3 linked regions of the Homo sapiens genome follow. The protein of the gene in region 1 interacts with the protein of each later gene in a pairwise test. Each region holds a gene or a part of one and is shown in the gene's direction. Other genes may lie near its edges. The genes, in order: RAB39B, ZDHHC17 and RUFY1.

Evidence for each region.
Region 2: the proteins of RAB39B (region 1) and ZDHHC17 interact in binary tests that used the Homo sapiens proteins (3 or more experiments, as listed by UniProt).
Region 3: the proteins of RAB39B (region 1) and RUFY1 interact in binary tests that used the Homo sapiens proteins (3 or more experiments, as listed by UniProt).

The regions. Positions count from the first base shown.
Region 1 is NC_000023.11:155,257,589-155,261,499, reverse strand, and holds the end of RAB39B (ras-related protein Rab-39B), read left to right. Parts: intron 1-270; coding exon 271-697; 3' UTR 698-3,265; downstream 3,266-3,911. UniProt on the Homo sapiens protein: The small GTPases Rab are key regulators of intracellular membrane trafficking, from the formation of transport vesicles to their fusion with membranes.
Region 2 is NC_000012.12:76,770,475-76,774,128, forward strand, and holds part of ZDHHC17 (palmitoyltransferase ZDHHC17), read left to right. Parts: intron 1-3,654. UniProt on the Homo sapiens protein: Palmitoyltransferase that catalyzes the addition of palmitate onto various protein substrates and is involved in a variety of cellular processes.
Region 3 is NC_000005.10:179,553,522-179,557,175, forward strand, and holds part of RUFY1 (RUN and FYVE domain-containing protein 1), read left to right. Parts: intron 1-2,132; exon of another isoform or gene 2,133-2,269; intron 2,270-3,654. UniProt on the Homo sapiens protein: Activating adapter involved in cargo sorting from early/recycling endosomes. Regulates retrieval of proteins from endosomes to the trans-Golgi network through interaction with the dynein-dynactin complex.

The DNA.
Region 1 (3,911 bases):
TCTCCAGTGCTGAATCCATGGAAAATGCCTAAAAGTTCATGAACATTCGTTTCTAGAAGATGCCCATCTCAAAGTTTGGCCCAATTGGAAACTCACATATTAGTAGTAGTATGGAATGCCATTTGTATTCCTTTGTTTTTTTAAAAAAAAAGAAAATCATTTTTATTAAAGGACTGTGTCACTAACCAGGAACACTTGAATATACTGAGTTCATTGACATGCAGAAGTTTGGGCACAGCCTTTACTCTTTACTTCTTTCTTGTGTTTTAGATCCATCACTCGCGCCTACTACAGGAACTCAGTAGGTGGTCTTCTCTTATTTGACATTACCAACCGCAGGTCCTTCCAGAATGTCCATGAGTGGTTAGAAGAGACCAAAGTACACGTTCAGCCCTACCAAATTGTATTTGTTCTGGTGGGTCACAAGTGTGACCTGGATACACAGAGGCAAGTGACTCGCCACGAGGCCGAGAAACTGGCTGCTGCATACGGCATGAAGTACATTGAAACGTCAGCCCGAGATGCCATTAATGTGGAGAAAGCCTTCACAGACCTGACAAGAGACATATATGAGCTGGTTAAAAGGGGGGAGATTACAATCCAGGAGGGCTGGGAAGGGGTGAAGAGTGGATTTGTACCAAATGTGGTTCACTCTTCAGAAGAGGTTGTCAAATCAGAGAGGAGATGTTTGTGCTAGTCAGTTCTTTTATTTCCAAAACATGCTCTCCTACTTGAACTGAAAAGTAAGAGAAATAAATAGAATCTTTGTGTAACTGATGAGAACTCAACCTCCATTTGGATACCAAGTGAGCCTCCCTCTCAGGGGGACTCTGACAGACTCGTGTGCGGGTGGATGGGGGTGCCTGAGTGCTGTGACCAAGGGACTGAATTGCTGACATGGGCCAGGCCAGGCACTGTTTTGTGGCCCATGCTAGGCAGTGGCTGCTCCATGAGCCCTTTGTGGACCACATGTTAAAGGCCTGGGGTTTAGGAAGCTAAGTCCCAGGAAAACATACCTACAGACAGGACAACTGTTCCTTGGTATTTGAGCTCACTTATAGGCCATGAACATAAAGAAATACATAAAGGGGAAAAAAGTTTCACAATGGGGACAATTAGCATAACTAAACAAAGATTATGAGCTCTACTTATTCCGTGAGAATACCCTGCACCAAAGGTGTTTGCTGGGTTTGGTTAAAAGGTACCAATTAGCTTTTAACAGCTTTCTGTAAAATGAGGAACACAGACCAAAAGGTCTGGTGTTCAAGTAAAAATGATGTGACTATGGAAAGGAAGGCAATCGACACAGTTATTAGCACATTTCAGAAAATGAACACCCTTGTGATAGAATTACCAGCTGTATGAAACAAATTGTCCCATGCAAATTACCCTATAACTAGGAAAGAGACACTATAACCCAAATGCCATACCCCCTTTTTCCTTTGACCATGCCTGGGGTTTCAATGCCTTGGCACCTGCAATCTGGAAGTAAACAGTCTGCTTGCTTCTTCAGGCACGTGACAGTGACAACACAGTGACTGCCTCTGAAAAGAGCCCTGAGGCAAACACTCTCTCCTGCTGAACAGGAGGCACTGTAACCCTTACAAACAGCTTACAGTTACTTGGGCTACTTATTTGATCATCATAACAGGCCTACGAGGTTTTTGCCCCATTTTACAGAATAGTAAACTAAGAGCCATGAAAATCACTTGGCCAGGGTCAAGGACTCGTGACTCCTAGCTCTTTTCACTGCATCATACTGCTGTCAGATGAATAAATGATTATGAATTTGTTTACTTGGGAAGAGATATGACTATAAATAAATGTTCTCTACATGTTAGGATATGTTTTCCTTATTGATTACAACTCAGCTATAATCCTGAGGGAACATGGGAAGGAATCAAAGGTAAAGCCCATTCAGGCATTATTGACAAGAGGGCTTTAAACAAGTGAATAATTGCACAACTAAAAAGACATTAGAACTGTGTGGGCTATAAGTGTTCTTATCACTGAGACACAGTGGATTTTTATTGAAAGGAACCACGTACAGCAATGCGGAGTGGGATAGGGATAAAATACCCACCCCAAAATGACCTTGGCCACCTGTCTGCCATATACGTACACTGAGTTCCTGTCTACCCAAGAGAGTCAGCCCTTAATTCTCAGGTGAACAAACAGCTAACTGCATCAGCAAATTGGAATGGCTGGCTTGAAGTTTCCATTATTTTCTTGAAGAGAGGTGATGCTTTAAATTACTTTTTGGATTGTAGCCAGTTCAGCTAGGCAAAAGCCATACTTTTCACAATTAAAAAAAAAAACTATTCTGACTAGAGTCAGGTTTCTCATATCCATTGTGATAGGAAGGCCTAAGAATGGCAAATCGCTTTGAGATATAATATTGAACTTCAGTATGAATGTGACCGAATCTGAAACTTTGGGAATTTGCTTTAGCCAGAATAAAGAAACCAAATCATGAAAATTATGGAAGACTATTCTGCCACCTGTGCCCCAAGTTGGATGAGCAAACCACTTTGGATCAGTTCACAGCATTAACTACAAGTGAACTGATCATCTTCTCTATATTCATTTCACAAGAGCTGGCTTAGGTGGGGTAATTAAATTGCCACCTTCGTGGTTGTAAAAGACAAACAAAACATGGCAAATTTCATTAACACAAAATTTCATCAACTGCTATACTGAATTATGTTTAGAAGATTCTGAAAGCAAGATTATCCAGTGGGTAAATGAGAGTCGACTGGATTCTGTCAGTTCAAAAAAGGAAAGAAACAAAACTTCCCTACAATTTTCTTCACTAAAATTTATTATATGTACAGTATTCCCACTCCTGGCATTTTCTGGCAGGTTTAAAAATATTCAGCATAAATCCAGCAGAGGTGGCTGAGCTTAATTGCTTAAATAAGTTCTAGAAAATTTAAAAATCATTTTAGTAGAATTCAGTACCATTGTCACTGCAATAAGTGGGTTTTAGAAAATAAGTGTGAAAAGAATCAGGTGTTAATATAATACTAAGGATAAAGCTTTAGAAGCTATTTTACTACATAGGTAAAGAAAAGATAAACTAACTTGTAACAAAGACCACAACTGCATGTTGGATTAGATTGTCTCATATTTCAGAATAAAATGTACTGTATACTTTTCCTCACTTTGTTGTGCACTGTAATGAAATGTGAAAAATGCTTTATTTAGCTGTATGTGAATGAAAATATGCTTGTATTTAGTAAAATGATTGATTATGTGACTGTGAGATTCCAAGTGTGTGTTATAGCTATTTCCAGAATCTGTTACTACAGCGTAGCAACTACTACCAAGGATATCAATAAGATGTGACATATACCATACACAATCGTATTCACCATTACCTTAAAGCCAGAAAGAGAATATAATTTTTGAAAGTTATCTGACCATCATATCAAAAGTCCCTGGGACCTCAATACTTCCTGGTGAGCATATGCCACTTTGAGAAAAGTTGGTTCTGTCAAGCCTAAATCTTCATCATGATGATTTTTAATCAAGAGTCTTAATTCTGTTGCCAAGTAGTTGATTACAACTATTATGTTCCCTGGAAAGTCTTCTTTTTTCCAGGCTAAGTTGCCTCAGCTTTTTCAAATCCTACTACGGCATGCTTTTTATGCCAGGATCACTTACAGTGTGGCACCAACATAAGAACACAATAGTTCAGCACATTTCCCAGGATTGATAGTACACATGAGGGTGGGGGGAGGGTTAAAAAAAAAAGGAAAGATAATGGATTCTGAGTCTGGGCATAAGTAGATAGGTAGCCTAAGTTCTGTACAGCTTTATCACATTTATATTAATTCTCTTATAGATTTAAGAGACGTGGCTCCAAAAGTCATTGCTGACAGCTCAACCTAGAGTCTTACTCTTTAGTC
Region 2 (3,654 bases), on another chromosome or scaffold:
ATGATGTAAGATTAACTGTAGACCTTCAGATACCTCAGGATAGATGAGGGAGAGTGTGTCTGTGTGTATTTTTTAAAATTAGAAATGATTCGTGGTCCTCCTTTCCTCCTAGAGAGGGTTGTAAGGGTATGTTAAGGTAGTCAGCATTGAACAGTTAAGGTGTCTTAAAATGCAGTGTGCTGGCCGGGCTTGGTGGCTTACGCCTGTAATTGCGGCACTTTGGGAGGCTGAGGCTGGCAGATCTCCTGAGGTCGGGAGTTCGAGACCAGCCTGACCAACATGGAGAAACCCCGTCTCTACTAAAAATAAAAAATTAGCCGGGCATGGGGGTGCATGCCTGTAATCCCAGCTACTCGGGAGGCTGAGGCAGGAGAATCGCTTGAACCTGGGAGGCAGAGGTTGTGAGCTAAGATCGTGCCATCCTGCCTGGGCAATGAGCAAAACTCCATCTCAAAAAAAAAAAAAAAAAAAAATGCAGTTTGCTTTTAACAGAACCCACAACAATTACATAATCCGAAAAGATGTTTCACTATTAAGGTTATGTAAAATTCTCTTTCAGCGCATTATCTGATTATAGTATTATTTTATGAATAGATTTTATTACAGATGGATAATTTAAGAGTAAAATCAAATATTTTAATTTTGGAATTTGAAAAATAATGATTCAAGACAATATTATATTTATAAAATACATAAAATTTGACCCAGTGGAATAATTATTTAGACCTAGGATAAAATATCTTCTTTTAAAATTTTCTTAAAGTGGAGCCACAGGCAGCTAATTTGAAAGTACAGTGAAACTTCAGCCTTCTGTGAATGAGATACTGTGAACTTAGTATCCTGAGTTACAGAGAATTAAACAATACTTTTTTGTTTTTGTTTCAATTCCTGTTGCAAATTTGCCAAATTATTTTCTAGGGTTAATACATACTAAACATAATAGAATCTTTCTTTGATAAATTAGAACATTATAGTGTCCTAGGATCATCTTTCTGATTATCGGTGATACTGTTAGGGATATGAAGATTATAACATTAACAGTACCTGAGACATTTTTTGTGTATATATGTCAGATGGCTTGCATTTTTATCAGTTGTTGTATTCTAGAAAAAAATGAAGTGAAAAATTACTTCTGATTGAGATGTTAGTATACCCTACCCTTGTTTAGTTTTTAAGAATAATTTTTCAATTATGAATACTCATTAATTTTTGAAGGATTTAATGAGGTATGAACAAAACTGGTGGTTACCAAAACTATCCCTATTCTCATGAAAAAAAAAAAAGTTCTTTGAGTTGAAGACAGAAGTTTCTTGTTGTGTAAGGATCCTCTTGTTGCAGATGTCAACAATCTTGTCTGAAACATAGTTGGGCAAAAAGGGGAATTTACTGTCTCAGATAACCTAAACTCAGGATGCAAGGATGCAGTTGAAATCAAACACAACTGGAACCTGAGCTGAGAATGCCACCAAAACTCTCTTATCTCTCCTCCTCTCTCCCTTTCAGCTTCATTTTCTCCAAATGCAGACCAGCTTCTTTCTTCCATGTAGCCGGGACATAGATGCCAGCAAATTATAAGTATGAGCTAGGCACTATCCTAAACAATTTTGCATGTATATTCATTCATTTAATCCTCACAGCTTTTTATACCTATTTTACAAATGAGGAAACAGAGGTATAGAGAGGTTAAGTAGTAATCCAGGTTGCCTGTTTTTATAGCACAATACAGTATGATAGAGATGATAGAGTTGGATTTGCTAGGCACTAGCTAGCTGTGGTTACAAATGGTCTCATTTGTGTTTTGTTTTTGAATTTTTTGAACAGACTTAATTTTTTAAGAGCAGTTTTATATTGGTAGCAAAATTGAGCAGAAAGTACGAAGAGTTCCCATATGCTCCCTGCCTGTACACATGCATAACCTCCCTCAGTATGGACATTCTACACTAGCGTGGTACACTTGTTATGGTAGATGAACCTACATTGATGCATCATTATCACCCAAAGGCCATAGTTTACATTAGGGCTCACTCTTCGTGTTGTGTATTCTATGGTTCTTAACACTTGTTTTTTTTTTTTTTTTTTGAGACGGAGTCTAGCTTTGTCGCCAGGCTGGAGTGCAGTGATACAATCTCAGCTCACTACAACCTCTGCCTCCCAGGTTCAAGCAGTTCTTCTGCCTCAGCCTCCTGAGTAGCTGGGATTACAAGCACGTGCCACCATGCCCAGCTAACTTTTGTATTTTTTTTTTTTTTTTTAGTAGAGACAGGGTTTCACTATGTTACCCAGGATGGTCTCAATCTCCTGACCTCGTGATCCACCCGCCTCGGCCTCCCAAAGTGCTGGGATTACAGGCGTGAGCCACCGCGCCCGGCCTTAACGCTTGTTTTTGTTTCTTTGGGAGAGGGATGGAGTTTTGCTCTTGTTGCCCAGGCTGGAGTGCAATGGCGTGATTCTTGGCTCACTGCAACTTCGCCTCCTGGGTTCAAGCAATTCTCCTGCCTCAGCCTCCCTCCCGAGTACCTCTACAAGCACGTGCCACCACGCCCTGCTCATTTTTTGTATTTTTAGTAGAGACGGGATTTCACCATGTTGGCCAGGCTGGTCTTGAACTCCTGACCTCAGGTGATCTGTCTGCCTCGACGTCTCAAAGTACTGGGCTTACAGGTGTCAGCCACTGCACCCGGCGAGGTTCTTAACACTTGTAAGAGTAATGTGTGTCCGCCATTATGTTGTCATGTAGAATAGTTCCATGGCCTTAAAAATCTTTGTTCTGCCTGTTCATATGTCCTTCCCACCAATCCCTGATTTTTTTTACTGTCTCTTTAGTTTTGTTTTTTCCAGAGTATCTTATAGTTGGAATCATGCAGTATGTTGCCTTTTGGATTGGCTTCTTTGACTTAGTAATATTCATTTAAAGTTCCTCCATGTCTTTTCATGGCTTCATAGCTCGTTTCTTTTTAGTGCTGAATAATATTTTATTTTCTGGGTGTATCAAATCCATTCACCCACTGAAGGACGTCTTATTGCTTCCAAGTTTTGTTCATTTACTTTTCACAGTAGTTCTGCAAAGTGTATATGTTGAGCTGTTTACAGATTAGGAAACAGATTCAAGAGAGGTGAAGTAGTTTACTCAGGTTCACATCATTAGAAAGTTGGCATAGTTTATATTAGAACCTAAACTCTGACTCCCAAGCCCATAATCCTTATATGTACTTTGCTGTATACATGAATAGGTCAAAATACAATTTATTTTTTACTTATTTTTTACAATATAGTAGAAAAACTTTATTAGAGTTAACTATCAGTTCTTCCTTGTTACTAAAGGAACTAGGGGAGGATTCATTTTTAGCAGTTGCTCTAAGGCCACTTCTTTTAGTAACCTTTTTACTTGAAATAATAAAACTACATTTCCATAAAAGTCCTTCTCTTTGAAATTTTCTTTTATTCAGTCTATTCTTTTGCTTAGTATACATTAATAAGGTAAAATATACTTCTGGCTGAGTGCGGTGGCTTGTGCCTGTAAATCCCAGCACTTTGGGAGGCTGAGGTGGGAGGATCGCTTGAGCCTAGCAATTCCAGACCAGCCTGGGAAGCAGTGGGATCCCTGTCTCTACAAAAAAATAAAAGAATTAGCTGGGTGTGGTGATGCATGCCTGT
Region 3 (3,654 bases), on another chromosome or scaffold:
ACCTGTAATCCCAGCATTTTGGGAGGCCGAGGCAGGCAGATCACCTGAGGTCAGGAGTTCGAGACCAACCTGGCCAACATGGTGAAACCCTATCTCTACTAAAAAAAAAAGTACAAAAATTAGCCGGGCTTGGTGGTACGCACCTGTAATCCCAGCTACTCAGGAGGCTGAGGCAGGAGAATTGCTTGAACATAAGAGGCGGAGTTTGCAGTGAGCCGAGACCATTCCACTGCAGTCCAGCCTGGGCAACAGAACGAGACTATCTCAAAAAATAATAATTAACTCAATTTAAGGAAAGTATTAATAACTACCACTCAATCTAGCAAAATGGTGACCATGGCTTACAAAGAGATGAAATTTGGGGAACTGCTGGGTAGAGCCATGAGGCTGGTCCCAAAGGTCACCGGGATTTGAAGCCATCAGGTAGGACAGGAGCAGAGGTGGGAAAGGAAATGGGCCAAGGGCGGCTCGCTCTGCAGCGACACAAGAAAAACAGGATGGGAGAAAGACAGTGACACCACTTCAGCCAGGGCCAGGCCCAAGGCTGACTCATTCTCTTTCCCCACTGATCTGCCTACACAAGCAATGAGGACAGGCAGGACTTTCAGAGGGAGCAGTTTAGGAGCAGAGATTGAATGTGAGCAGCACTCTTGCTGGATGATATTTTTTCAATGGTAGAAGCTAAAGGAAATGCTGCGGAATATTTTGAATACTTGTTTTAAAATGTTGTCCCGGTCGGGTGCAGTGGCTCATGCCTGTAATCCCAGCACTTTGGAAGACCGAGGTGGGTGAATCACCTGATGTTGGGAGTTTGAGACCAGCCTGACCAACATGGAGAAACCCCGTCTCTACTAAAAATACAAAATTAGCCAGGCATGGTGGCGTAGGCGTGTAATCCCAGCTATTCAGGAGGCTGAGGCAGGAGAATCTCTTGAACCTGGGGGGTGGAGGTTGCTGTGAGCCAAGATCGCCGCATTGCACTTCAGCTAGGGCAACAAGAGCAAAACTTTGTCTCAAAAAAAAAAAGAAAAGAAAAGTTTTCCCATGTGGGGTCTGGTATGTGATTGTATTGTCCATAGGTGTCCTGTTTGGTTTTGGGGGATTTTTTTTTAAGGTAATAAGCGAACATGATTTTTAAAAATCAAACCATACAAAAGAACATTCGGACAGGCATGGTGGCTCATGCCTGTAATCCCAGCACTTTGGGAGGCCGAGGCGGGCGGATCATTTGAGGTCAGGAGTTTGAGACCAGCCTGGCCAACATGGTGAAACCCCGTCTCCACTAAAAGTACAAAAATTAGATGGGCGTGGTGGCGCACGCCTGTAATCCCAGCTGCTCGGGAGGCTGAGGCAGGAAAATTGCTTGAAACCAGGAGGCAGAAGTTGCAGTGAGCCAAGATCACGCCACTGCACTCCAGCCTGGGTGACGAGCAAAATTCTGTCTCAAAAAAAAAAAAGGACAAATACTAAATCCTCCTTCCCAGAAATTTTCCCCAGTACTATTGTATCTTTGAGAGTTTCCGCACATAGCACATGTGCTTTCCTCTCTCAACACTGGCTGTTTTCACGCAAGCAATAGGATGTACCCACAAGGAATGTATCTTGCTTTTTAGAGTAATGCTTCCTAAAGGATGAGTAACAAACATGCGTGTTTTAAGAATTAACATGCTGGCGGGGTGCAGGTGGCTCATGCCTGTAATCCCAGTACTTTGAAAGGCCAACGAGAGAGGATTGCTTGAGCCCAGGAGTCTGATACTGGCCTGGCAATTTATTTGGCAATTCAGTAGGTGTAGAACTTCACGATATTCTCTGTGTCATGTTGAACTATTATTAATGAAGCTTAGAGATGTGAATAGTTTGGCCAAGGTCACAAAGCCAGTAAAATTGAGAGATAGAACCGCTAAAAGATCGTTCCAGGTTTAATTTTCCATGCCTCTAACTTGAGTGCTAATGGGTACAGGTAACCCCATAGTAGGGGATGCATGAGATGGCAAAACACTGCCAGCAGCACTTCCAGAGACAGCACCACCCAGCGCTGATTGCCTGGAACACTGGTCTTAACATTTTTTGCTCATGTAACCCCCTAAGAAAACTCCCAACTTTTTTTTTTTTTTTTTTTTTTTTTGAGCCGGCGTTTTGCTCGTCACCCAGGCTGGAGTGCAATGGCGTGATCTCGGGTCACGGCAACCTCCGCCTCCCAGGTTCAAGCGATTCTCCTGCCTCAGCCTCCCAAGCAGCTGGGATTACAAGCATGCACCACCACGCCCAGGTAATTTTTTGGATTTTTTTTTTTTTTTAATTGATCATTCTTGGGTGTTTCTCAATTTTTTGGATTTTTAGTAGAGACAGGGTTTCACCATGTTGGCCAGGCTGGTCTCAAACTCCTGACCTCAAGTGACCTGCTCACCTCAAGTGATCTGCCCACCTCGGCCTCCCAAAGTGCTGGGATTACAGGCATGAGACACTGCTCCCAGCCGAAAACTTAACTTTTAAAGTTAACGTATAAGATTATTCATCATATTTTAAAGTTGCTCAGAATTCATTTTCTGGCATAGTGTAAATATTGACTTTTTAAAATAAAACTGTTACATTGTTTTTTGAAATGTATCAAGTGGTATGTAAATACCTTAATGAATTGATAATTACCACCATCCATCTTTAAAATAGCAAGTTATTTAATATTTGAAAATTTTACATTTTCCCTTTTATTCATTGAACTTGGATTTCCATTCCACTTCTGCCATAGAATTAATGTAATAGATTTGTATGTTTTTAAAAGTGTTATTGGTCATCTTATAAGTCTCAGCAAAAAGTATGTAAATAAGTTAAAGTTTAATAAATTTTTATTGTGACTGAAGCTCTAAGTGTATAAAAATTTTTCTTCTGGAGTGAATTATCATTAAGTTTATTAGTAATGCTACATTGGTAACAGGAACATAAATATAATTTTTATAAAGAATTATACATAAATTTTTCTTGAATTGCGTTTTTTTTTTTTGAGAAGGGTCTCACTCTGTTGCCCAGCCTGGAATGCAGTGGCGCAATCTCGGCTCACTGCAACCTCCGCCTCCCGAGTTCAAGTGATCCTCCCACCTCAGCCTCCCCAGTAGCTGGGACTACAGGTGCACGCCAGCACGCCCAGCTAAGTTTTGTATTTTTAGTAGAGACGGGTTTTACCATGTTGGCCAGGCTGATCTCGAACTCCTGACCTCAGGTGATCTGCCTGCCTCAGCCTCCCAAAGTGCTGGGATTACAGGCGTGAGCCACCACGCCCAGCCAATGAATTGCATCTCTAAATGAGATGAATGGTGTTGGTTTTTGTCATTAGCATATATCTGTAGATGAATATATATGATTTACTGCTAAAGCGTGATAGAATTCAGCATCAGTTTTAGTCCTGTTTTTTGTTTGTTTGTTTTAGTAATGTTGGTCATCTTTGAACTCTTTCCAAGTTATATGCCCCAAATCACACTGATCTAAAGCCAAAAATTATTTTTTGTTCCCTTATTTTCATTCAAAGCAAATAATTGAAAATTACCTGACCTGCAACCTAATCATATTAAGAAAATTTCTCAACTGTTGGGAGTTACCAAAACAAAAGTTTTACCAAGACTTATCAAGTGTGAGCCAGGCACGGTGGCTCATGCCTGTAAT